4 linked regions of the Homo sapiens genome follow. The protein of the gene in region 1 interacts with the protein of each later gene in a biochemical or structural test. Each region holds a gene or a part of one and is shown in the gene's direction. Other genes may lie near its edges.

Evidence for each region.
Region 2: the proteins of SIN3B (region 1) and REST form a complex in vitro, tested with the Homo sapiens proteins (one study listed by BioGRID).
Region 3: the proteins of SIN3B (region 1) and SUDS3 form a complex in vitro, tested with the Homo sapiens proteins (one study listed by BioGRID).
Region 4: the proteins of SIN3B (region 1) and NR1D2 form a complex in vitro, tested with the Homo sapiens proteins (one study listed by BioGRID).

Annotation. Positions count from the first base shown.
Region 1 is NC_000019.10:16,824,536-16,832,399, forward strand, and holds the start of SIN3B (paired amphipathic helix protein Sin3b), read left to right. Parts: upstream 1-4,862; 5' UTR 4,863-4,885; coding exon 4,886-5,005; intron 5,006-5,255; coding exon 5,256-5,362; intron 5,363-6,958; coding exon 6,959-7,112; intron 7,113-7,864.
Region 2 is NC_000004.12:56,931,875-56,936,358, forward strand, and holds the end of REST (RE1-silencing transcription factor), read left to right. Parts: coding exon 1-278; 3' UTR 279-3,970; downstream 3,971-4,484. UniProt on the Homo sapiens protein: Transcriptional repressor which binds neuron-restrictive silencer element (NRSE) and represses neuronal gene transcription in non-neuronal cells.
Region 3 is NC_000012.12:118,414,523-118,418,540, forward strand, and holds the end of SUDS3 (sin3 histone deacetylase corepressor complex component SDS3), read left to right. Parts: 3' UTR 1-3,511; downstream 3,512-4,018.
Region 4 is NC_000003.12:23,940,819-23,948,310, forward strand, and holds the start of NR1D2 (nuclear receptor subfamily 1 group D member 2), read left to right. Parts: upstream 1-4,467; 5' UTR 4,468-4,760; coding exon 4,761-4,776; intron 4,777-5,302; exon of another isoform or gene 5,303-5,435; intron 5,436-5,504; exon of another isoform or gene 5,505-5,744; intron 5,745-7,492. UniProt on the Homo sapiens protein: Transcriptional repressor which coordinates circadian rhythm and metabolic pathways in a heme-dependent manner.

The DNA of each region.
Region 1 (7,864 bases):
GCAACCAGCAGCCCTGGGGGCTGCTCTGTCTATGGAGTAGCCATTCTTTAGTCCTTTACTTTCCTAATAAACTTACTTTCAGTTTACTGTATGGACTGGCCCTGAATTCTTTCTTGCGTGAGATCCAAGAACCCTCTCTTGGGGTCTGGATTGGGACCCCTTTCCCGTAACAGTGTCAGAGGTGTTTGAACCAGAGGAACCCCGACTTGAATAGGGGCTGGGTAAAATAAGACTAAGACCTACTGCACTGCATTCCCAGATGGTTAAAGCATTCTTAGTCACAGGATGAGATAGGAGGTCAGCACAACATACGGGTCATAAAGACCTTGCTGATAAAACAGGTTGCAGTAAAGAAGCCGGCCAAAATCTACCCAAATCAAAATGACCTCTGGTGGTCCTCACTGCTACACTCCCACCAGCGCCAAGACAGTTTAGAAATGCCATGGCAACGTCAGGAAGTTACCCTCTATGGTCTAAAAAGAGGAGGCATGAATAATCCACCCCTTGTTTAGCATATCATCAAGAAATAAATCATAAAAATGGGGAATAAGCGGCCCTCGGGGCTGCTCTGTCTGTGGAGTAGCCATTCTTTGTTCCTTTATTTTCCTTATAAACTTGCTTTCACTTTACAGACTCTCCCTGAATTCTTTCTTGCGTGAAATCCAAAAACCCTCTCTGGGGGGTCTGGATCGGGACCCATTTCCTGTAACACTGGGAGGCTTTGGTAAGAAACGGACTGTCCAGACATCTGGTGGCCACAGAGTGTTCAGTCTGCCTTCGCTGCTCTTCCTGGCTGGGAGCCACAAATCTTCCATGCTTTACTTTCTAAATACCACTCCCTTCCACCCACCGCTCTCTACTTCCACTGCTCCCATCCTGGTCTAAGCCACCATCGTCCTTTGCCTAAATGATGAAACAGCCTCCCTCCACCCTCCCTGGCTCCGCTCCAATCACTTTCCTGCAGAGCAGCCAGAGTGATCACTTTCAAATGCAAACCTGAACTTGCAGCTCCTCCGCTCAAAGCCCTTGGATGGTTTCCACCAGCGTGAATGCTAAAGCCTGAACTCAGTGCATAAGGTGCTGTGTGTTCCGCTCCTCTGGCTGCTCCGGGATTATCTTGTACTCTCTTTCTTCCCCTCCCTCTCTGCAGCCTGGGAAACTCGTCTTAAAAAAAAAAAAACTCTTGAAATGTACCATGCTGTCTCCCACCTCAAAAATCACAGCTGTTCGTGATTTTTCTCATGATGAATGCCTACGCATTCTTCAGATCTCAGCTAGAATGCCACCTCCTCTGGGAAGCCTCCCTCATCTCCTGCAAGACTGGGTTAGGTTTCCCTAGGTAACAGGTGGTATTTTCCAAAAATAGCCACAACATATTTCCTGTCCCACATGATACTCTTGGCCATTTGCCCTCCTCTTGAATTTAGGAAAAACTTTGTAACAGCCTGTATGGAAAGAATGCAATGGAAATGATTCTGCGTGACTTCCGAGTCTGGGTGAGAAAAGGTAATATGGGAGCTGGGTGCAGTGATGCATGCCTGTAGTCCCAGCTACTCAACAGATTGACGTGGGAGGATCCTTTGAGTCCAGGAGTTTGAGGCCAGCCTGGGCCAGCCTGAGACCCTGAGTCCCACCCCAACCCCTGCCATCTCCGGAAGAAGAAGAAGGAGAAGGAGAAGAGGAAGAAGAAGAGGAAGAGGAAGAAGAAAAAGAAAAGATGATATGATTCCCACCTGGCTCACACGCTCACTTGTTCTTAGAACGGTAGTTGTGAAGAAGCTCAGGCTGCAAGGAGACCACATGTAGGTATTCCAAGCAACGGCCCCAGCGAGGGTCTCGGCCTGTAGCCTGTAGCAACTGACATACATATGTGTGAGCAAACATTCAGGTGATTCCAGCCCCCAGACTTTGAGCCACCCAGCTGATGCCAAGGTTGAGTTATTCCTCCCAAGCCTGCCCAAATTGCAGATTGAAGAGTAAAATGAATGTCTCTTTTCTTTCTTTTTTTTTTTTTTTCAAGACAGGGTCTTGCTCTTGCTCTGTTCCCCAGGCTGGAGTGCAGTGGCGCAATCTCAGCTCATTGCAACCTCCACCTTCTGGGTTCAAGCGATACTCATGCCTCAACCTCCCAAGTAGCTGGGATTACAGGTGTGTGCCACCACACCTGGCTAATTATTGTATTTTTAGTAGAGATGGGATTTCACCATCTTGTCCAGGCTGGTCTTGAACTCCTGGCCTCATGTGATCCACCCACCTCTGCCTCCCAAAGTGCTGGGATTACAGCCATGAGCCACTTGCCCCGTGAATGTTGTTGTCATTTGAAGCTTCTAAGTCTTGAGCTGCTTTTTATTTTCTTTTACAGAAAGCCCAGACCTTACAATGTTTTTATTTTTTCTCTCCATTTTTCTTTCTTTTTAATGTTTTTGTACAGATGGGATCTTGCTATGTTGCCTGGGCTGGTCTCAAACTCCTGGCCTCAATGCATGCCCCCACCTTGGCCTCCCAAAGTGCTGGGATTGTCAAGGGCTCATTTGTTACACAGTCATAGCAACAGAAATTTAGGAACTGTTACATGTATACCTTCTCTTTAAAGTATTTGTTACATGTGAAACTTTACATTTGTGTGATTACTAGATTCCTGTCTATCCTGAGAGACTAAAAGCTCTTAACGGCCAAATTTGCGTTCCTTTTTACCATTCTATTCCTGACACTTAGCAAGGTGCCTGGTAAATGATGCACTCGATGCCAATTTACTCTCAACTTTCCTGCACCTCTTCACTTATAAAAAGAGAAAGCACTTGGTCATTAATTGAACGTTCACTTATTTGATGAATGCTGACTGAGAGACTGTGTCAGGGATTTGTATTAGAGACGGACACAAAACAAATATGAAATACAAGGGACTGAGGGGAGACATAGAAGGGGACTGGGAACACTTCCTGAGGGAAAGGGATATTTGGGCTGCGTTTAGAAGGATGTATAGGTGTTTTCTGAATAACAAAGAGGCATGACAGTACTTCTGGCAAAGGAAATGGTGAGTGCCAATGCTTGGGACCAGGAAGCAGCCAGGTTGGTCAGGCAATTGTGTGAAGTTCTGCACAGAGGCAGGCAGTTTGCTTGGAAAATCCTGCAGGAAAAGGTTCCTAAGGACCAATTCTGACAGCCTGCAATGTAGGTGCTTAGATTTCATCTCATTAGAAATAGGAAGACCTTGGAGGTTTGGAAGGAGTGGTGGAAAAAGTGGAGTTTTTTGTTTTTCTGTTTTTTTTTTTTTAAGAGATGAGATGCTCTTTAAAAAAAAAAAAAAAAAAAAGCACTGCTATGCTTCCCAGGCTGGGGTGTGCAGTGGCAAGATCATGGCTCACTGCAGCCTTGAACTCTTGGGCATGAGCAATCCTGCCTCAGCCTCCCGAGTAGCTGGGACTAAACGTGTGCACCACCACGCCCAGCTAATTTTTTCATTTTATTTTATTATTTAATTAATTAATTAATTAATTTTTTGAGACAGAGTTTTTGCTCTTGTTGCCCAGGCTGGAGTGCAATGGCGTGATCTTGGCTCACTGCAACCTCCGCCTCCCGGGTTCAAGCAATTCTCTTGCCTCAGCCTCCCGAGTAGCTGGGATTACAGGCATGCGCCACAAAGCCCGGCTAATTTTGTATTTTTAGTAGAGACGGGGTTTCTCCATGTTGGTCAGGCTAATCTCCAACTCCAGACCTCAGGTGATCTGCCCGCCTCGGCGTCCCAAAGTGCTGGGATTACAGGCGTGAGCCACGGCGCCCAGCCAATTTTTTCATTTTCTTTTTCTTTTTTTCAAGGCCCGGCTAATTTTTTGTATTTTTAGTAGAGACGGGGTTGCACCGTGTTAGCCAGGATGGTCTCTATCTCCTGACCTCGTGATCCGTCCGCCTCGGCCTCCCAAAGTGCTGGGATTACAGGCGTGAGCCACCATCCCCAGCCTAGAGTTCTTGATAGTATCAGGGCTGAGAAAGTACCAGAGTTAGAGCCAGGTGGGGTGGCACTAAAAGTACAAAAAATTAGCAGGGCGCAGTGGCGGGCGCCTGTAGTCCCAGCTACTCAGGAGGCTGAGGCAGGAGAATGGTGTGAACTCGGGAGGCGGAGCTTGCAGTGAGCGGAAATCGCGCCACTGCACTCCAGCCTGGGCGACAGAGCGAGACTCTGTCTCAAAAAAAAAAAAAAAAAAAAAAAAAAAAAAAGAAAGTACCAGAGTTAGGAGGCTCCTAAACTGGTCCAGATGGGAAGTGACGGGGCCAAGGATAGGGAAGTGAAGATGGGAGGAGTAGGACTAACTTAAAGGCCATTTAGCAAAAATTCACCACGCAAGGCCCTATATTAGGGCGCTGGGGGCTCATACCTCATCGTCCCGTCAACTCTATAAAGCAGGGGCCAACAAACTTTTTCCATAAAAGGCCAGATCGTAAATACTTCAGGGTCTGCAGATCTGTAGGATCTTTAGCAACTACCTACTCTGTTGTAAGGCGAAAGCAGGCAGAGAAGCCAGGTAAACGCGTGGGCGTGTCTGTGTGCTAATAAAACTTTATTCAGGGACCCTCAAATGTGAATTTCACAAACTTTTCACAGGTCATAGACTATTCTTCTTTGGATTTTTCCCCCGGCTATGTAAACATGTAAAAATAATTCTGAGCTTGCGGGGCCGGACAAAGTAGGCGGCGGGTCTTGGCTCGCCTACCCCTGCTATATAAATCATTAATTATGATACCAATCTTAAGGAGAAGGTCTTCAGAAGAGTCCCTCAAAGAGCACCGCCCCTCAACGTCATCAAACCCCGCCTCCAAAGGCGGAGGCTGCGCATGCGCGGCAGGACCTCGGGCGGGGGCGGGGCGGGGCGCAGCTCCGACTTCGGACATGGCGCACGCTGGCGGTGGCAGCGGTGGCAGCGGTGCCGGCGGCCCCGCGGGCCGGGGGCTGAGCGGCGCCCGCTGGGGTCGCTCGGGCTCCGCAGGCCACGAGAAGCTGCCGGTGCACGTGAGTGGCGTCCCCGCCCTCCCTCGGGGAACCCATCTTCTGGACCCCGCGGGCGGGCGCCCCTCACCCAGGCCCCGCCCGGCCCCAGCCCCACCTCGGCCTCCCCTCTGCACTGCCCCGGACCCCTCACCCCTCACCTCTCACCTCGGCCCTCCGAAAGCCCAGCCCATCCCCTTCCCCTCAGGGACCCCGGCCCCTCGTCCCCTCGTTCCGCGGCCAGGGCCCACCGGGACCCTCCCCCTCTCTGCAGGTAGAAGACGCCCTCACCTATCTGGACCAGGTGAAGATCCGCTTTGGCAGCGACCCTGCCACCTACAACGGCTTCCTGGAGATCATGAAGGAGTTCAAAAGCCAGAGGTACCAGCGGGGCCCCTCTCCACCTCAGGGGACCCCCCTGGGCCGGAATCGGGCCTAGCGGGGTGAGACCTCCCCTCTCCAGCCTGCCCCCTTAGCCGGGTGACCTTGCGCAGGTTGTCCAATCTCTCAGAGCCCTAGCTCCTTCTCGTAACAAAAATGGAAATGGGTAGTACCCACCTTGTGGAGCTTTGTGGGGATTCCTGGAAGCAGGACAGGGATCTGGGGGGAGGCAGGGAGGGCGAGGCCGTGCACACTCATAGAGTCAAATCCTGCCTTGATTTAATATGTTGATTTTTATATTAGTTTTGTTCATGAAAGATTTGGTGGGACCCATTTTGATTTTTATTTTCAAGCGCTGTAAAATGTTATTGTCTTGATGATTGAAATTTTTGGCACCCTCTTCCCCTTTAATCTTGTCCTCAAGATGCTTCTCTGGGCTCACTGTGGTCCCAGGCCTGCTTGGAAGTAAGACGCATAAAATGCTTAGTAAGGGAGCTGGCACACAGAAAACGTTTAAAACACATGAGATGATTTTGCAGGCCCAGAATCAAGGAAGATTACAGATAGATGGGAAACCCTGGGATCATGCCCTTGTTTTTATAGGAGACTCACTGAGGTTTGGAGTGGGTAAGGGACCCACCTAAGTGGCAGAGGTGTCACTAGAACTCAGACCCTCTGACTCAGATTCTTGGAAGTCACATGCTTACCATACTGCTGCCCCCTCTTAGGAAACATGGTGGGGCTGGCCTGGTTTCCTTCCGGGAGCCCAGTGCTAAGGGCTGGGCTGCAATGCAGCCAGAAGGGAGACCCCATCTCTCCCCTCCTATTTTTCTTACACCTTTCCCATTCTTGGCAGTACCATTGGTATTTATGCATTGCAATTGTTTGCTCAGATGGAAACCTGTGTCATAGTCATCTCTATCTGATACAAAATGAGGGAAGTTTTCACATTGCTTAGAGGACTTTGGCCTCCTGCCATTTCTTGGAGTCCAGGCCTTGCGGTTGGCTCTCCTGACATTTTCAGAACCGAGTACCCATTCTTGGAGTGTTTTAGGGGAGCTGAGCGATGTCAGTATTCTCTGGTTCTCACCAGGAGGGAACAGGGAGCTCAGGCCTAGCCAGTCAGGAGATAGGTCATGGTGTACAGATGCTATCACATGGGGGCACTTTTTTTTTTTTTTTTGAGATGGATTCTCGTGCTGTCGCCCAGGCTGGAGTGCAGTGGTGTGATCTGGGCTCACTGCAGCCTCCGCCTCCCGGGTGCAAGTGATTCTTGTGCCTCTGCCTCCTGAGTAGCTGGGACTGCAGGCACGCACCACCACTCCAAGTTCGTTTTTGTATTTTTAGTACAGACAGGGTTTCACCATGTTGACCAGTCTGGTCTCGAACTCTTGACCTCAGGTGATCTGCCTGCCTCGGCCTCCTAAAGTGCTGGGATTACAGGCATGAGCCACTGCGCCTGGTGGGTCACATTTTAGGTTCCTTTGTTGTCTGTTGAGAAGGTTTTTATGTGGCAGTATCAAGGGAGTGGGGAATAGATTATATTTTTCATTTATTTCCCAAGACCCTTTTGCCCACTTCCGTTGTTTCTTCTAGCATCGATACTCCTGGAGTCATCAGACGTGTCTCGCAGCTCTTCCACGAGCACCCTGACCTCATTGTTGGATTCAACGCTTTTCTTCCCCTCGGATATAGAATAGACATTCCCAAGAATGGCAAGTTAAACATACAGTCGCCTCTGACAAGCCAGGTATGCCACTACAGTGGTTCGGGTGATCTCAGCCTTCACCGAGTATGTCTTGCTACTCAGGTTGGGCCACGTGTCTCTCCTGTATCATTGCTAGAAAGCCACTTAAGATCTGTTCTTTTTCTAGACGTGCTCATTGCTTCTAGCACAAATCAAAATAGATATGGAAACACCTACACAAGCAGCCTCTGCCTCCCAAATTGATCTGTTTGGAAGATTTAAATCAAGAGTGGATGTCAGGGAGGTATCCTCCTAACGCAGAATTTTGTGTGAAGTCTAAATAACCACCTCAGCAGTTGCTGAGGTCTTGGCTTGAGGCTTTCCCAGCGAGCATACCAGGCAGGCTTGCCCTTGTATTTAAGCATGTCCTCGTCTGCCTCTGATCACTCTCAGTACCACCTACAAAATAAAGTGGTCGAGATGGTGTGTGAGTAGCCACGTTTATGTTGGCTGTGTTTCATTTAATTGTTGATAGGATCATTAGCTCAGCTGGGACTCCTGGCTTTGCTTTGGTCCCTTTTTTCTTGGGTGATAGGTGCTGGCCCTCTTTTTTTTTTTTTTTTTTTTTTTGGAGACGGAGTCTGGCTCTGTCACCCAGGCTGGAGTGCAGTGGCGCAATCTCAGCTCAGTGCAACCTCCGCCTCCCAGGTTCAAGCAATTCTCCTGCCTCAGCCTCCCGAGTAGCTGGGATTACAGGTGTGCACCACCATGCTTAGCTAATTTTTGTATTTTTAGTAGAGATGGGGTTTCTTCAT
Region 2 (4,484 bases), on another chromosome or scaffold:
ATGAAGATGAAGGCATCCACAGCCATGAAGGAAGTGACCTAAGTGACAACATGTCAGAGGGTAGTGATGATTCTGGATTGCATGGGGCTCGGCCAGTTCCACAAGAATCTAGCAGAAAAAATGCAAAGGAAGCCTTGGCAGTCAAAGCGGCTAAGGGAGATTTTGTTTGTATCTTCTGTGATCGTTCTTTCAGAAAGGGAAAAGATTACAGCAAACACCTCAATCGCCATTTGGTTAATGTGTACTATCTTGAAGAAGCAGCTCAAGGGCAGGAGTAATGAAACTTTGAACAAGGTTTCAGTTCTTAGTTTGTAAGGTATATTACATTTTATATTCATTTATGATAGCAGACAACCTTTTAAGATTGCTTTAATTAGTATCTGATGTTGATTTTTAAGTGGCATTCTTTTCCTTAGGACTTTTTATGTATACCTGTTGATTGTTGTGTAAATTTTAGTAAATCTAAGAGAGTGTACTAAACCAGCAGGTATCTGTTAGCTTATGTGTTTAATTGAAATTAGAAGGCTAAGATGGTATAACAGCATTTTATTGCTTTGTCCAGCTACAACTTGTCATTTTTTTCTCCATGTCTTATCTTCCTGTTTCACTTTAGTTTATTCTTCGTTTTTTATTGAGATCTATAAAAAATTGGCTTACTTAATAGCAAATTACTTGAAGAATTTGCCTGCTTTATATAAAGTTAGCACTTTAAGATTTTTTTTTTTAGAGATGAGAAGACATTTAAATTGAAGAAAAATTCCCCCAGCAATAGACAGTCTATCAGTCCAAGTATTTACTTCCTGAGTTTTGATCAATATTTTTTATTTGTGTATGTTAATCGTCATAAAAACAGTGATTTTGGTGTGTTTTTTATTTTGGTGCTTTAATGGCTTAAGATGTTGCACATTTTTTTTTTCTTTTGGTTTCTGTTTATGTTTTTTTGCCTATGCAGTTAAATTTTTCCTAGAAATAGCATTTGTGTTGAACAGTAACACTTTATACATATATATATGCATGTTTATTTTGTTTGGCGTCTTTGGAGGGATGCTTTTAGACTTGTTTGCAAAAGGGCAGTTTTCTTTTTCTTTGCTGCAGTTGTCTATTTTGCAGAATAATAGTGTGTGCAAGTTTGTGAGCAAATGAAATATGCAGGTTCAATCTATTGATTTTGATTTTTACATCTTATATCTATGCCAGAATCTGTATTTCATATAACTTATTTATTTCGAATGGATGTAGTAAATTCACAGCTATCAGTTTTGATTTTGCAATAAATAAACCACTAGGTTGCATGTCGAACAAATTTTTATCTCAAATACCAACCATCAGTTTTTTTTTTCATGTGTTTTGGTACAGCTAATTCCTAATTGTAGAGTGTTAAATGTTTGAGGAGAACCTTTTCTCATAGATGGTTGGTGTTCATATGGCTACTTTACAATAAAGAGAACTGTAAGTGATATTTGGAAACTACAAACCTGGAATTAGGAGATATAATTATTCCTTCAAGTTTTATAGAATATCACTTGGGAGATTCCAAAGCCATAGCTATTACGCGGCAAACCTAGGATAAGAAAGGTAGTATGAGTGCTGGTAGACCAGCTGCAACTTTCCTATACAGTGAAAAAGGCTGGTGAAACAAGTACAGTCCAGATTTTTTAAAATCATACTTTCTCAGGGATCTCCACAAACTGGTGGGTGTCCTGGCTGTCTGTGTGATAGCCTCTTTCTATAGGTGAGGCCTCAAATGAATTGCAGCTATCCTGGTGTTCCTATGAGGGCACTTTGTATGAAAAAGGGCATGTACTCCAAAACATTTTTGTAGGTTCTTTGGCCAGTTGCCAAAGAGTGTGAAAGAATCCAATAGAGGATTTTTCTTACTGATAGCAGTCATTCATTGCAGTAAAATAAAATATGATCCCATTAGGGAATCTTGAATTCTGACCTCCCATACTCCGTTTTGAAATAACCACTTTATATTTCATTTTTTAAAAATCTGATGATCTCTTTGAGGCAGGTTTCAGATTTGGCAGTACAACATGAAAGATTAGGAAAAGCATTAATAACGTGTGGGTGGAAAGCTTGTTAAAAATCTGAGAGTGAAGTTTGAGTTAAAAGTTGTTTGAACATGGCATTGACTGGGAGGCCAAAGATTTAAAGAAGCGGAAGATTCTTCTCTTAAGACATGAGGAGTAAGTTGTGTGATAATGGTATGTGTTTTGTGTGCATGAATGGACATTGTAAATGTTGAATTCTAGGCTCCGACAATCATTGTCAACAGAAGATCAAGCTGCAAATATTTATGTTTTAAAACTTAAATTATAAAGCTAGTTAAGTCTTTCTAATGACTAGTTTTAATGTTCATGGGTACATTTTACCTAAGTTACCGTTTACATTGTATAGAAAAAGATACATCTTAAGCACAGATTGGTTATTAGGAATTAGTTTGGGGAAGAGGTTTTTTTGTGGATTCTTTCATACTGCAAAGAAAAACCATTTGCCTTTTGGGGAATTGAGCTAACTTCTAATCTAGTCTTAAGACTAGAATGCTAAAAACAAAAACATGAAGGAAATTAAAACCCCTTATTATTAAATTGATTTGTAAAAACATTGTTACTGGAAATTTATTGGACTTGAGGCCTTCCTCCAGAAAATAAGGACTTGATTGTCAGGCCTATATTAGGTTCTGAACCTTAATGCCATGTATTTGTACTTACTAAAAATTGTTTCAATGAAAAGTACATTAGCAGTATGAACTTCTGGTCCAGTTGGAAGTTTTTCCATTTGAAAAATGTGATGTTTGCATGGAACTGTTTGAAACTTTTTTATTTTCTAGTCCCCCTCCCCCACACTGGATAGAATTTAGCCTAGAATTTTCCCTTTGGATAAAAGAACAAAAATTGAACATGTTATTTGTAAATTGATGTTTAGTAATTAGTGATAAACTTGAAATACTAGCATATATTATAAGCCTTAATCTTAGGTAGTCTTATGAAAATGAATCTCTTAACTATCTTTTGAACCTGTATTCACATTGGTTTTCAAGATATTTTAAGTTATATTTTTTCCTCTTTTCAGAGCTGCTTCTTATTCTGGGGCTACTTTTTTTTTTAGTTGTGTAATTCACAAAGGGCTGCATTTTTTTTTTTTTTTAATAAGGCTTATAACTATGGCTGGATCTTTTGCTCTAGTCTTCTAAGAAGGGCCATTTTATTTTTTAGAGTCACTTCTAAAGTCATGTGGTAATTAACTTTGGAGACTGTTTTGCGTATGAGTGCTGATACAAATTAAAACCCAAGTAGACCTCATTGCATGTCACCCTATGAATGTTGACAATGGAAGGAATACCTTGCCTGTAGTATACTGTCACTTCTGGATTGATAAGCTGAGGAAGAAAGTTAAGTTTCTTTTTTACATAAGTCAGAAAAACTTACAGCTGGTGTTCCTAGTTTCCTGGTTGACCTCAGCAGATGAAGTGAACAGATAGTGTTAATTCAGATTGAAGAAATTATCTGAATCTTGGTTTGTGTAGATTTACAATCTACATGCAATATTAACTAAATCAGATAGCTTTTACAGTTTCACATGTGTACATAGGTTCCCTCCCGGTCCCTTCCATATCCATTAGTTATTGAACTTTCTAAACTGGCATTGAAACATTACAACAATGTTTTGTTGCACCAATTTTATAAACTTAAGCAGTGCAATACGTGTTACTTTTCTGAGGCAAACCAAAGGTAAATTTCTCAAGGTTCTTGCTGCCTTCTTTAGCAGCATTTGATGGAAGATCTTTTATACATTTGTAATAGATAAAAATAAACCAGATTGCAAATCCTTTTTTAAAATCCTAAACCATGTACCAAGTTTTTGGTCCAAATTATGTAGGATAAGTTAAACTTAAATTGCATTCTATTAACCAATATGAGTGTATTTCTGTAAGCATAGTTATGTTGAAATAAAGTTTTAAAAACCATGATGCCTTTGTTTATTATTGGTATATCCAGAATGTAGGAAAGCCAAATTTATGTTGCTGGAACTGCAAGTGTATTAATAGGCTTTTGAAGATTATTTCTCAGGCTGGGCGCAGTGGCTCACGCCTGTAATCCCAGCACTTTGGGAGGCTGAGGCAGGTGGATCATGAGGTCAGGATTTCAAGGCCAGCCTGGCCGACATAGTGAAACCACGTCTCTACTAAAAATACAAAAATTAGCTGCGTGTGGTGGCAGGCGCCTGTAATCCCAGCTACTCGGGAGGCTGAGGCAAGAGAATCGCTTGAACACAGGAGGTGGAGGTTGCAGTGAGCCGAGATCGTGCCATTGCACTTCAGCCCAGGCGAGAGTGTGAGACTCTGTCTTTAAAAAAAAAAAAAAAAAAAGTATCACAGGTAGAAAAGTCACAGCATGTTGTCTGAGGTAACAGTCCAGTATGGGTAGTAACCCAAAGCATACACTGCTTGATGGGAGGTGCGGGAGAAATTGGACAATTCA
Region 3 (4,018 bases), on another chromosome or scaffold:
CTTACTGGGAATAGCTACTCAGCCTTGGAAATGGAGAGCACTGCAGTGAATTCTTTAGGGCACTTTTGTGGCCGGATGCTTCCAACTTTGTCAGTCTTTTCTGCCTCAACTTCTTCCAGACATCAGTCACCATGAGACTGTTTTACTTTCAGGCGTATTGGGGGGTTTGATTTACTTTCCTTTTATTTCTTTATTTTTTGCTTATACTTGTTTTTGAAAACCTCCTCTGAGTTTGAAGGGACAGCTATTTTTATTGATTATCTTTAAGTCTCTCTACCATGGAGAAGAGCAGGAAGGGATACACTCTCCAGTGCATTTTCATGTTTTGAATCTGATTAGTGGATCACGTAGCTACTTTCCCTGTCGCGTCCAATTCACTATTTGCCCAGAAGCTTGGGGCAGAGGTCCTAGCAGGAGATGATGAATTCTCGTGGCTCTCGGCCTTCTCAGAGAAATAAATGCTTTGTGTAACATCTGTGCACACCATCCATTCCGCTCGCTGAGCGATGGAAAAGCTTGCCTGGAAGACTATGTGCACTGAAGTAAATGGGGTTGGGGGAGGGGACATTTCATATTTATAATGTGCTGAAGGTACCATATTTTAAATGTTATTTAATGCAGGTGATTTATTCAAACATTTGTTCTAGCTTAAGCTGGAATAAGCAGTGGTCATTTCAGAAGTTTTCATTTGTAATTCCTTCCTCTCCCTTGTTCCCAAGTAGGTAGTAGTAAGTATGTGCCACAGGCTGATTATCTGGGTAATCTTTTACGGGTGGGAGGTGAGATTGATAGTGCAATAATCAGTGATCTATAGACCCTCATGCACGATTCAAGTTTCACTCTTGTGGCTGATGCCATTATTGCACATTGGCCATTCCAAACCTGTGGAGAACTTTGTTGTCAGGCCCTGAGCGCTCACAGCTTCATTTGGCCCAGGTTGAAGACAAGGAAAGCTCTGCTGTGGCTGCCTCTGGACTGACACCCTCCCTAATGAGTCCTGATGAAACAGCCTTTCCTACATCCTTCCCTCACTCCCATGATTGGAGAAATGATTCATTGGGTGATGAGTGTTGGGGTTTTCTATACTCATGTTGCCATCTTGAGATGTTCAAAAAATTTGGGGTTAGAGCAACTGTTAGCGTCTCTATGAGCAATCAGTAGAACTTACACATCCTAGGAAATCTTTCTTTGTAAGTAATTCTTTTGGTCTCAAGTGATTCTCTTCATGTTGTCTCTTGATGTACATACCCCCAAGCAAGTTGGGGGGACTGTGATGACAATTAAATCACCTTCTCTGAAGTTCTGGCTCTGCAGAGACCAAACCTTACTGACTTGTACAGACTTGTACAAGTAAAGACTTATACAGATAGATTTTTGTTTTAACTTACAATCCGTTTTTTCCTCTTTTTTTTTTTTTTTTCTGGTGTTGGAGTCTTATTTAGAAAACAGGATAAATGACGCTGTTATCAAAAGTTGCCTGGGGTTCTGTATTTCTTCTCTGCCCTCCAATCCCCGACTGCTATGATGTTTACTACAGTGAACCCAGCCCATGGTAAACACAGGCTTCACCTGTTCTTGTTTGTTAGCCTTGACTGTGAGGCAGGACTTCCCTCGCTTGAACTGTTACACATACGATGTGTGTGTCACATCACATATTGTGCAGCTGTTGGTTTTCATGTAGTGCCCTGCGATGGAAATTAGATATATTTCATGTATTTTTCCATTGAAGGTGGAGTTTTTCAATGATCATGTGTTTTGTCCTCCTAAACAGTATACCAAAGTTTGTTTTTATAGTTGAGGATTGTATTGATAACCACTGGGGTTCCGCATTGAAGCAGGAACAAATTGCCTCTTTTTCTGGCCTTCTCTGTGGGACCTCTGCTTTTGTGAAGCAACTATTTATTTGAAGACCAGGGTATGGGCACTTTTGCCTTCTCTCCTCTCTGACTTTTGAGGGTATTGAGGGCGCCCTTAGTCATAGTCTCGACTCCGCCATTGCCTTCTCCTCGGCGTCCTCACAACTCTTAATTGGGCCTAGTGAAAATGGGGGCAGGTGAGAAGTCCATTTTGAGAATCAGCATAGTAAATTACATTTCTAATCCCAGAGGACTTAATATTTTCTTTTGTCACCCCAGAGGTGAAAAATCAGCAGTTGAAGCCTGACAGGCCTCAGTGGTGACCAGGAACAGAAGCAGCCTTCCTGTTAGTAGATGGGGGTACTTCTGTGGTGGGCAGAAGCCTTACTAAAGGGGAAGACAGACTTTGAAGTTTCTAGACGAGAAGGAGGCTAGCTTCTAGCCTGGGTGGCCATTATTCCAAAAGGTCATTGTTTCTCACTAGACCCCAGGGCACCAGATGAATTTCCAAGTTTAAACTCTTTCCTGCAGGTGATTACTTTGAAAAAGGTTGGTCCAGACCATTTTGATCAAGAACCTGTATATGTGTTGTGTTAGAGGCATCTGCCTCAAGTCTATGTACAGTGTTTGCTGCGGGTGTGTTCCAATATTCATTTTACCTCTGCTTGGGGGTTTTGTGTGTTCCCCTCCCCCCATGCCCTGCCTACCCCCTTTTCCCTGAACCACGTCCTTTTGAATAATTTCCAGATGGATTTCTGTAGCCATACCAAAGCCAGGGTGTTTTCATTCATGCGGATACTAGTATTTATAGATGTCTGACTACCTAACTTAATTTTTGTTTTTGAACTTCTAATTGGGGCCAGTGTAAGGTCGATCCCAGAGGCTGATCTGCAAATCAAGCTACATGTATTTGTGTATAAGACCCTGTGTTCAGGACTGGGTGACTTTTCTAAGAAATATGGGGTTTAGAATGGGGTTGACTGTATTTTTTAACCTAATTCTGGAGAGAAGATTGTATTTTTTACAGTTTTTTGGGTTTGGCTTCCTTCTCACATTTCTTTAGCTTTGAATTTTTACTAAATAAATTTCCTCCTGATTAATTTTTTTTTTCTCATCTGGGAATTTGAAATCTCGGTGCTTACTGTTACACCAATTTGTCCAAAGAGTTGAAATCACTTTAATGCCAGAACATGGTAAATTTGCAGCCATTTCAAGCAGGTGATGGTCTTTTTTTATAACATCGTTAACGGGTACCATTAAATATTCTGAGAGGTGAATGTAAAATATAAAAGGTATAGGTTTTTTTTTTTTTTTAAAGAAAACAATAAACTTTCAAAGAGAAAACCAGCATGAAGTCTGTATTGTATCCATTGACTTGATAAGTGATAGAAATTTATTTTAGGTTTTTGATCCATTGCTTATGGGGAAAGGAAGTTAGGGCAGAGGAAGGGATATTCTAGACATTTAATTCTTAGTGAAGACTAAGATACAGAATGATGTCAGGCTAATACTCAGTTTTGTAAAGAGCAATCTGGGGTGTTGACCCTTAAATGTTTGTGCACTCTTCTTGTTGCAGATAAAAGTCATTAAAAATCAAGTGAATAGAATGGATCTTGGGTGGAAAAACAATCTTGAAATAAACTTGTGATTGAGGATATTGTTCATTTGGTGCATGATTAAGGAGGATATTGTTCCTGGCTTTTGAGATAGTGCCTACCAATCTTAACCAAACAGTGATGGTATTTGTACTGCTCCCGGGGTCAGCCAACAAGCCTGCGTGCTGCCACAGGTGACCGACCTGTGACCCAGTTATGGCACCCCTTTGGGAAAGACTGCTTTATGCTTTAGATGATGGAGAGGGGTGGTTTCTGTTTTTAAAATGTTTGAATTAGACAGAAATGTGCACAAGTTTTAATTGTAGAAGTTGTTGAAATCTCTCAAAGTGAATTCATCCATGTAACTATTATAGCATCCAGATCAAGAAATAACATTCCCAGAACCCACAAGCCCCTTAGACTTTCAGCTACTCCTCCCAACTAGTTTTCTCTATTTTAAGTACCTTAACCTTCAAGCTCTTGAGCTGCTTCCTTCCATGGTTGTTCTAGAAGAGCCAGGTACCTGGTATAGGCTAGGGATTGACCAGGAATGCAAAGAGCTAGCAG
Region 4 (7,492 bases), on another chromosome or scaffold:
AAATAGCCTGGAAGAAGGTACGTCACAAATGTCATGATGAACGGCAACTGCAATTTGCTGTGTCACAGCAAACTGCCAGAGCTATTTGTTGCTATGTGATGATGTCGCTGCTCTGAGACAAACATGCTTGGGAATTTTTGTGTTTTAAATGTCTCTGTTTTCATTTCTAATAAGTAGATCTTGATATAGTCCACAAAAAAAGTACTTTGTGGTCTTCAACAATTTTAAGAGTGCAGAGTTCTGAGATCAAAAGTTTGAGAACTGCTCATCTAGGGCATAGAAAAGGCAATTTAAGTGGCATGTTGTTTCGGTATTAGGAGCTAGCAGGACTCATTGGAACATTTTAAAATGAGGAATGACCTTAAATGTTTTTAATTGGCCTTATCTTTAATAGACTTCACCTTTCTCTTTTTTTCCTAATGCCCCTCCTTCATCTAGGTCCTCATACTGCAGTGCGCCACTTGGCCTATCTTACTTGAGTTTGGGATAAGAGGACTCTTAACATTTAGGCTCTTCTTTCCTTTATTCATATCTAGATGGACCTATCTTGTGTTGTTTTGCAGGCTCTGTTAATTGTATGTAAGGGCTAATGAGGTAGCTTTCCTAGAAAGTAATTTGCATTTTTAACAGATAACTTTTGAAGACACAGTCACTTCATTCAACAGTTATTTTGGTCAGAATGAGGAAGGTGGAGTAGGTAGAAATCCACTATGAATATTCTGAGAATCCCAACAGACTAAGCCATAGACACCACAGGATTAATAAATGAGGCTCCTTGGAATGACAGCAGCAAAAGGCAATTTCCACCGCAGCTACAGCACGCTGGGTACTGCCCAACCAGAGGATGCTCCTGAGCATCCTCCTCTGGCACTGAGGAGCCCAGCGAATTTCCAGTGGCCAGTGGTGTGGCTGGTGACTGACTTGGGTTATAGCTCTATAGCCTCTACTAGTTACTTGCAAAGTCTCATAGGAAGAAGGCAGCCTCTAAAAAACGCTGAGGCTCATAGACACTGATATTATTTTATAGACACTATCATCGAAGAGAGGGTCTTAAAGATATACTTTGCAATGGCTATTTTTCACTTACATTCTTCTTTTCAAATTTAAATAGTGGTAACCTCTTATACAATTTTAAATAGTCTTTATTTATTTACTTATTTATTTATTTATTTATTTTTGAGACAGAGTCTCACTCTGTTGCCTAGGCTGGAGTGCAGTGGCATGATCTCAGCTTACGATAAACTCTGCCTCCCGGGTTCAAGGGATTCTCGTGACTCAACCTCCCTAGTGGCTAGGATTACAGGTGTGTGCTACCACATCCGGCTAATTTTTGTATTTTTAGTAGAGACGGGGTTTTGTCAAGTTGGCCAGGCTGGTCTTGAACTCCTGGCCTCAAGAGATCCGCCTGCCTTGACCTCTCAAAGTGCTGGGATTACAAGCGTGAGCCACCGCGCCTGGCCTAGAGCAGTACTGTGAACTTCAGAGTTCCCAAGCACCTCCTGCCTCCACAAACGCACAGCTTCTCCCACTATCAAACATCCTGCGACACGGTGGTACATTTGTTACCACTATCGAACCTACACTGATACATCATTCAAAGCCATAGTTTATTTTTTCATTTTATTTTTTTGAGACAGAGTTTTGCTCTTGTTGCCCAGGCTGGAGTGCAACGGCACGATCTCGGCTCACCGCAACCTCCGCCTCCCAGGTTCAAGCGATTCTCCTGCTCCACCCTCCATATTAGCTGGGATTACAGGCATGTGCCACCATGCCCGGCTAATTTTGTATTTTTAGTAGAGACGGGGTTTCTCCACGTTGGTCAGTCTGGTGTCAAACTCCTGATCTCAGATGATCTGCCGTCCTCGGCCTCCCAAAGTGCTGGGTGAGCCACCGCTCCCGGCCTCAAAGCCACAGTTTACATTAGGATACACTTCTTTTTTTTTTCGAGACGGGATCTCCTTGCTCTGTCACCCAGACTGGAATGCACTGGGGAGATCATGACTTACTGCAGCCTCAACCTCCCAGATCAAGAGATGCTCCTGCATCAGCCTCTTGAGTAGCTGGGACTACAGTTGCACACCACCAAACCCGGCTAATTTTTGTATTTTTTGTAGAGATGGAGTTTCGCCATATCGCCCAGGCTAGTCTCCGATTCTCCAATACCTGGGCTCATTGATCCTTCCACATCAGTCTCCCAAAGTGCTGGGATTACAGGTGTGAGCCACTGCGCCCTGCCAGGGCTCACTCTTGACGTTGTAGGTTCTAGTTTTGACAAATGTGTAAAAACATATATTCACCATTATAGTATCATACAGAATACTTTCCCTGCCCTAAAAATCCTCTGTGCTCTATTCATCCCTCCTTCCCCTCTAGCCTTTAGTAACCACTGATCTTTCTACTGTCTCCAGTTTTGCCTTTTCTTCCTTTTTTTGAGACAGAGTTTTGCTCTTTTTGCCCAGGCTGGAGTGCAATGGCGCGATCTCGGCTCACCGCAACTTCCGCCTTCCGGGTTCAAGCGATTCTCCTGCCTCAGCCTCCCGAGTAGCTGGGATTACAGGCATGCGCCACCACCCCGGCTAATTTTGTATTTTTAGTAGAGATGGGGTTTCTCCATGTTGGTCAGGCTGGTCTTGAACTCCTGACCTCAGGTGATCCACCCGCCTTGGCCTCCCAAAGTGCTGGGATTACAGGCGTCAGCCCCCGCGCCCAGCCCAGTTTTGCCTTTTCTAGAATGTCGTATAGTTGGAATCATACAGTACACAGCCTTTTTAGAGTGGTATCCTCTTTTATGATTTCTTTTCTGCCTTCTAGACTGTTCATATTAACCTCATTTTACCTGTGTAGAAGTAGATGGTAGTTGATACATGAAAAAGCAAGCAAGCTACAAAGCGTGGCCTGGGGAACTCTTCCATCAGCATCACATGAGGGTGATAAATTCCAGAAGTAGGGAAGAATAGAGGGCTACCGTGATTAGGGAACTGTGTTTAGAAGGGTTTGGGTATCAAGACAGCCTTGGAAAGAGAAGCAGGACCCACATCTGTGCAGGGCGAAGCAGGTCAGGTTAAGTCGTTGAATTTTTTCAAAGTGTAACACGAAGCCATTGGAGGGTTTTCAGCAGAGTAATCAGATCTTATTTACATTTTAAAAATAATACTTTGACTGCTGGGGAGAAGTGACTGTAGGAGGACCCAAGAAGCACTCTCCTAGTTAGGGAACCAGAGCAGTAGCTGAGGCAAGAGATAATGGTTTGCTCTAGCAATACCAACGGTGAGAAACAGGGATTGAACATATTTTGAAGGTAGAATAGCTCAGACTTGCTAATGGATTGAATGGAGAATAAAAGGCTGTGAGAGTGTTAGGAGAGAAACATAATTTTGCTGGCTTCAGGAACTTGCAGATTTACCAAAACAGTAAATATTGATATGGTGAAGAAACCTGGGGGGTGGGGAAATAGGGTGTTGCACATGTAAATATGTCTTCCACGTGACATTTTCCCCACCTTCTATAGTGAAGAATTTCAGAGCAAACTGGAAAGAGTTTTACAAGCAACACCCATATCCCCATCGCCTAAGTTTAACATCTTACCATATCATCTATTCATGCCTCTATCAGCCCATCTTACTTCAGTAATGCGTTTAAATTGCGGGCATCAATGCACTTTCCTCAGAATTCACCTCAGCACGCATACAATTTATGTCTAGCTTTTTTCTTTTGATCTAAAATTTACATTCAAGGTGAAACGCCCAGATCTTGACTGCACATTAGCTGAGTTCGGACACACGCGTACACCCGTCTAAAATCTGAGATGCAAAAAAGCGGCATAATCAAACGGGCTGCTGGATGTAGGAATCTGGAGATTAGAAGAGAGGTCTTGGCTTGAAATATAAATCTGGGAATCACAAGAACATAGGTCTACTTAAGCTATGAGATTGGATAAAATCACCTAGAGGGTGCAGAGGGAAAGGGAAGGGTCTGTGCCCTCAGAGACCAGCGTTTGGAGGTCGGTCGGGTGGGAGCGGGGGGTGGGGGTGGGGGGCGCAAGGGTTGAGCAAGCCCGAACCAGCCGGCCCAGCCGGGGTCCTGAGAATCACCCTTGCTCGGCGCCAAGCCACCGCTTTGACCTAAGAGCCACCAGGTTGGGGGGCAGGGCGTGGAGAGGACTCCCGGCCAGAGGCGGGAAAGGCAGCCGGGAGGAGAGGAAAGAGGAGGAGGAGGGGAGGAATATGCGGCGGAGGGAAACGGAGAAGAGGTTTACGGCACGGAGGGGAAAAACGAAGGAAGAGGAGGGGCTCGGCAAGGAGAAGGAAGGGGAGAAGGGGGAAGCGCAGGAGAAAAGGGTAGCCGGGGAGCCGGGAAGCGGGCGGGAGGGAGGGGAGCGGCGGGGCGGAGGTCGCCGCAGCGGCCGGCCGAGGGCGGGCGGAGGGAGGGGGTGTGTGCGCGGGTCACATGGTCGCGGCTGCCCTCCCCGTCAGCCGCCCTCGCCGCCGCGGTGCGCTGGCTGCAGGAAGCCGCCGCGCCGCCGCTTTTGTTGTCAGGGACCCAGCGAGGAGCGCCGCTCGCCGGCCGCCGCCACCCTCTCTCGCTGCAGCCTGCTGTGCGCTGCACGGCCTGGGGCCCGGGAGCCCCGCCCGCTCTGCCCATGAGGGGGCCCCGCGACCACCGCTGCTTCCAGCCCGGGGCGGCGCGGCGCTGAGGCGGCGGCGGCGGCGCTGCCCCCTCTGCGGGAAGCGGGCGGCCCCGGCCGCCTCCGCGAGGGCACCATGGAGGTGAATGCAGGTAAGAACCGGACTGCGGCGGGTGGGGGATGGCCGGAGGGAGCGCTCAGAGCCCGCGGGGCACTTTGGGGGGCGGCGGCAGGGGGTGTCCCCATGGCCGGTGGGGCGGGGTGGGCTGCTGCGCGCCGCGTGTCCGCCTCTGGCTCGGTTCCCATCGCCCCCCGGGCCGCCCGGCGCCCGCCCTCTTGTCTCCCTGCAAAGCCGCAGCGCGGCCTGCCGGCGCCCGGCCCGGCCCCCCCCTCACATGGCCCGGCCGCGCGAGCCACGTGCGCGCTGTGTTTACGTTCGGCGGCGCGCGGGCGCCGGTTGGCTGGGCGGGCGCGTGACGCGGCATTACATAATGGGCGCTGAGGCGGCGGCGGCGGGCGGGGACACGTGAGGCCGCTCGGCTCCCTGACCCACATTCCCCGGGGCCGCAGGGACACGTGGGGGCGGGGGCGCGCGCGCGCGCGCTGGCTGGGAGCGCCGCAGCCTCCCGGGAGGCTCCGCCCCTTTGGAAGCCTCGGGGCAGTGACGTCGCCGCGATTCCCTCCTCCCCCGCGGGGTTGCACACTGCGGAGGAGGCCGCGCGTGCGCGCCCGCTGAGCCCCCGCGGCGGGGCGTCCCCGAAGCGGGCGCTGACACCGCAGTGCACCGGACGCCGCACGCTCTTTTCGCGAGGTGACCCCAAGGCGCGGACCCCGCGCAAACCAAACGAACCGGCGCCTGGGGAGGCTGGTAGCTGCATACCTTGCAGATTCCGAGGAGGAAGTGCAGGACGAGGGCGTGCTGCAGGCCGGAGGAGGCGCCTCGGGGAAGGCGTGGGGCTTTCCCGAAGGGATACGCTCGAAGGAGCTCTGAGGTGCTTCGATCCCGAGCGACTCCCCGCAGACTGGGTAGCACCGCCCCTGTTAGGATGCCGTCTGTTTACAAAAAAAACCGTTTGCTCTAGGACGCGACCTGTCTCATACACACACAGTCTTAAAAACTGCTTCCAGATCCCTTCGGGCTGGAGTTTTCCAGTAAACGGGTCACACCCGCAGCTGAGCGTGCAGCTCACGTATGGTCAGGATGACTCAGGTGATCATAGGTGACTCCAACACCATATGTAAGACTGGACATTCTTCATTTAAATTAAAAAAAAATTAACCTGTGGGTCGCTGACTTTTCCTGAATCTGATCAAGAGAATTTGGCTTTATAAATATTTTTCTTGTCACATTTTGTTACATTGCAACGGAACAACAGGGTGCCCTTCCCTCCTTTTGTCTGCCCCAAATGATGAGGTAGATCTGAAGTGAGTGAGGTTATGGAAACAGCCAGCTTTTGTTTTATTTTTTGAGTTGCAATGCGCCTCTAAGAATCTTGCCTCGATAACAAATGTATTGTGAACTTTTCACCAAAAGTAAAAATAAAGTCACTTTCTAATTTTATTTACGTATTTTTAGAATTTACTTATTTTTTTTAACCTGTTGTCTCACAAAAATCTGGATCTAATTGTGTTTTGATTACCTAATCGGCCTACTTAGCCTTTGAGGGTATTTTTAAAATTTTATGAGTTTATCATAGAATTAAACTTCTACATGTTAGAATTCAGAGGTGATCAGGGTGAACCTCTTCTAACCCACCCTTTAGCATGAATTCTAATAGCTTTAGTAACCTCATAAGGGCTGGCTCAATTAGGAAGTTTTTCTCTGGTTTGAGCCCTCTTCCAATACTTCGCTGATCTAAATCTTGCCTCGTGGAGCAAGGCACATTATAAAAATTCCTCCGGATGAATGTTGACCATCCCCTTCCCCCTTCAGTTCTTCCATTTACAGTTCTCATCTCTTTGTCCTTGCCCAGCATTGTTTTTTCTGATCACTCATCATCCTTGTTGCCGTTTGGGATGGAGCACCCAGAAGTGAACAGGCTCTTGTGGAAGTGGTTGGATGATTATCAAGTTCCAAGTTGCCCTCTTTGTCTTGAATCCTGTTGCAAATGAATTCCCTGGCAGGCTTAGTATTTTTGGCATGTTGCTTTGCTGACTCACAGTAACCTTGCAGTCAACTAGGACCTTTCACGTGAACTATTATGAAGTTAGATTTCATTCATTGTGCAGATAATTGCATGACTTGAAGTGTAGGAATTTACAATGACCATTCTTAAAATTTCTCTCGTTCATTTGGCCTTAAGTTCAAAGCTGTTACAAGCTGTTACCCACCATGTTTACAGTTTCTGCTATCTATCAGTAAGCAGGAGGTCTAATAAGAATTGCCTTAAACTGGCCGGGCACAGTGGCTCACGCCTGTAATCCCAGCACTTTGGGAGGCTGAGCCGGGCGGATCCCCTGAGGTAAGGAGTTCGAGACCAGCCTGGCCAACATGGTGAAACCCCGTCTCTACTAAAAGGACAAAAATTAGCCGGGCGTGGTGGTGGGCTCCTGTAATCCCAGCTACTTATGAGGCTGAGCAGCAGAATAGCTTGAACCTGGGAGGTGAAGATTGCAGTGAGCCGACATCGCGCTACTGCACTCCAGCCTGGGCGACAAGAGCGAGACTCCCATCTCAAAAAAAAAAAAAAGCCTTTTAACTTTCGAATTTTTGTAAACATTGACCAAGGTGGGGCCAGATTCAGCGCTGTGTGGCACACCTCTACCCTTCCCTCTAGTTTGGTTATCAGTTGACAAACATTCAACCAGTGATCCTGTAATCTTACTGTCCTTCGTGACATCTCTATGTCTCCTCGCCCCATGAGTAAC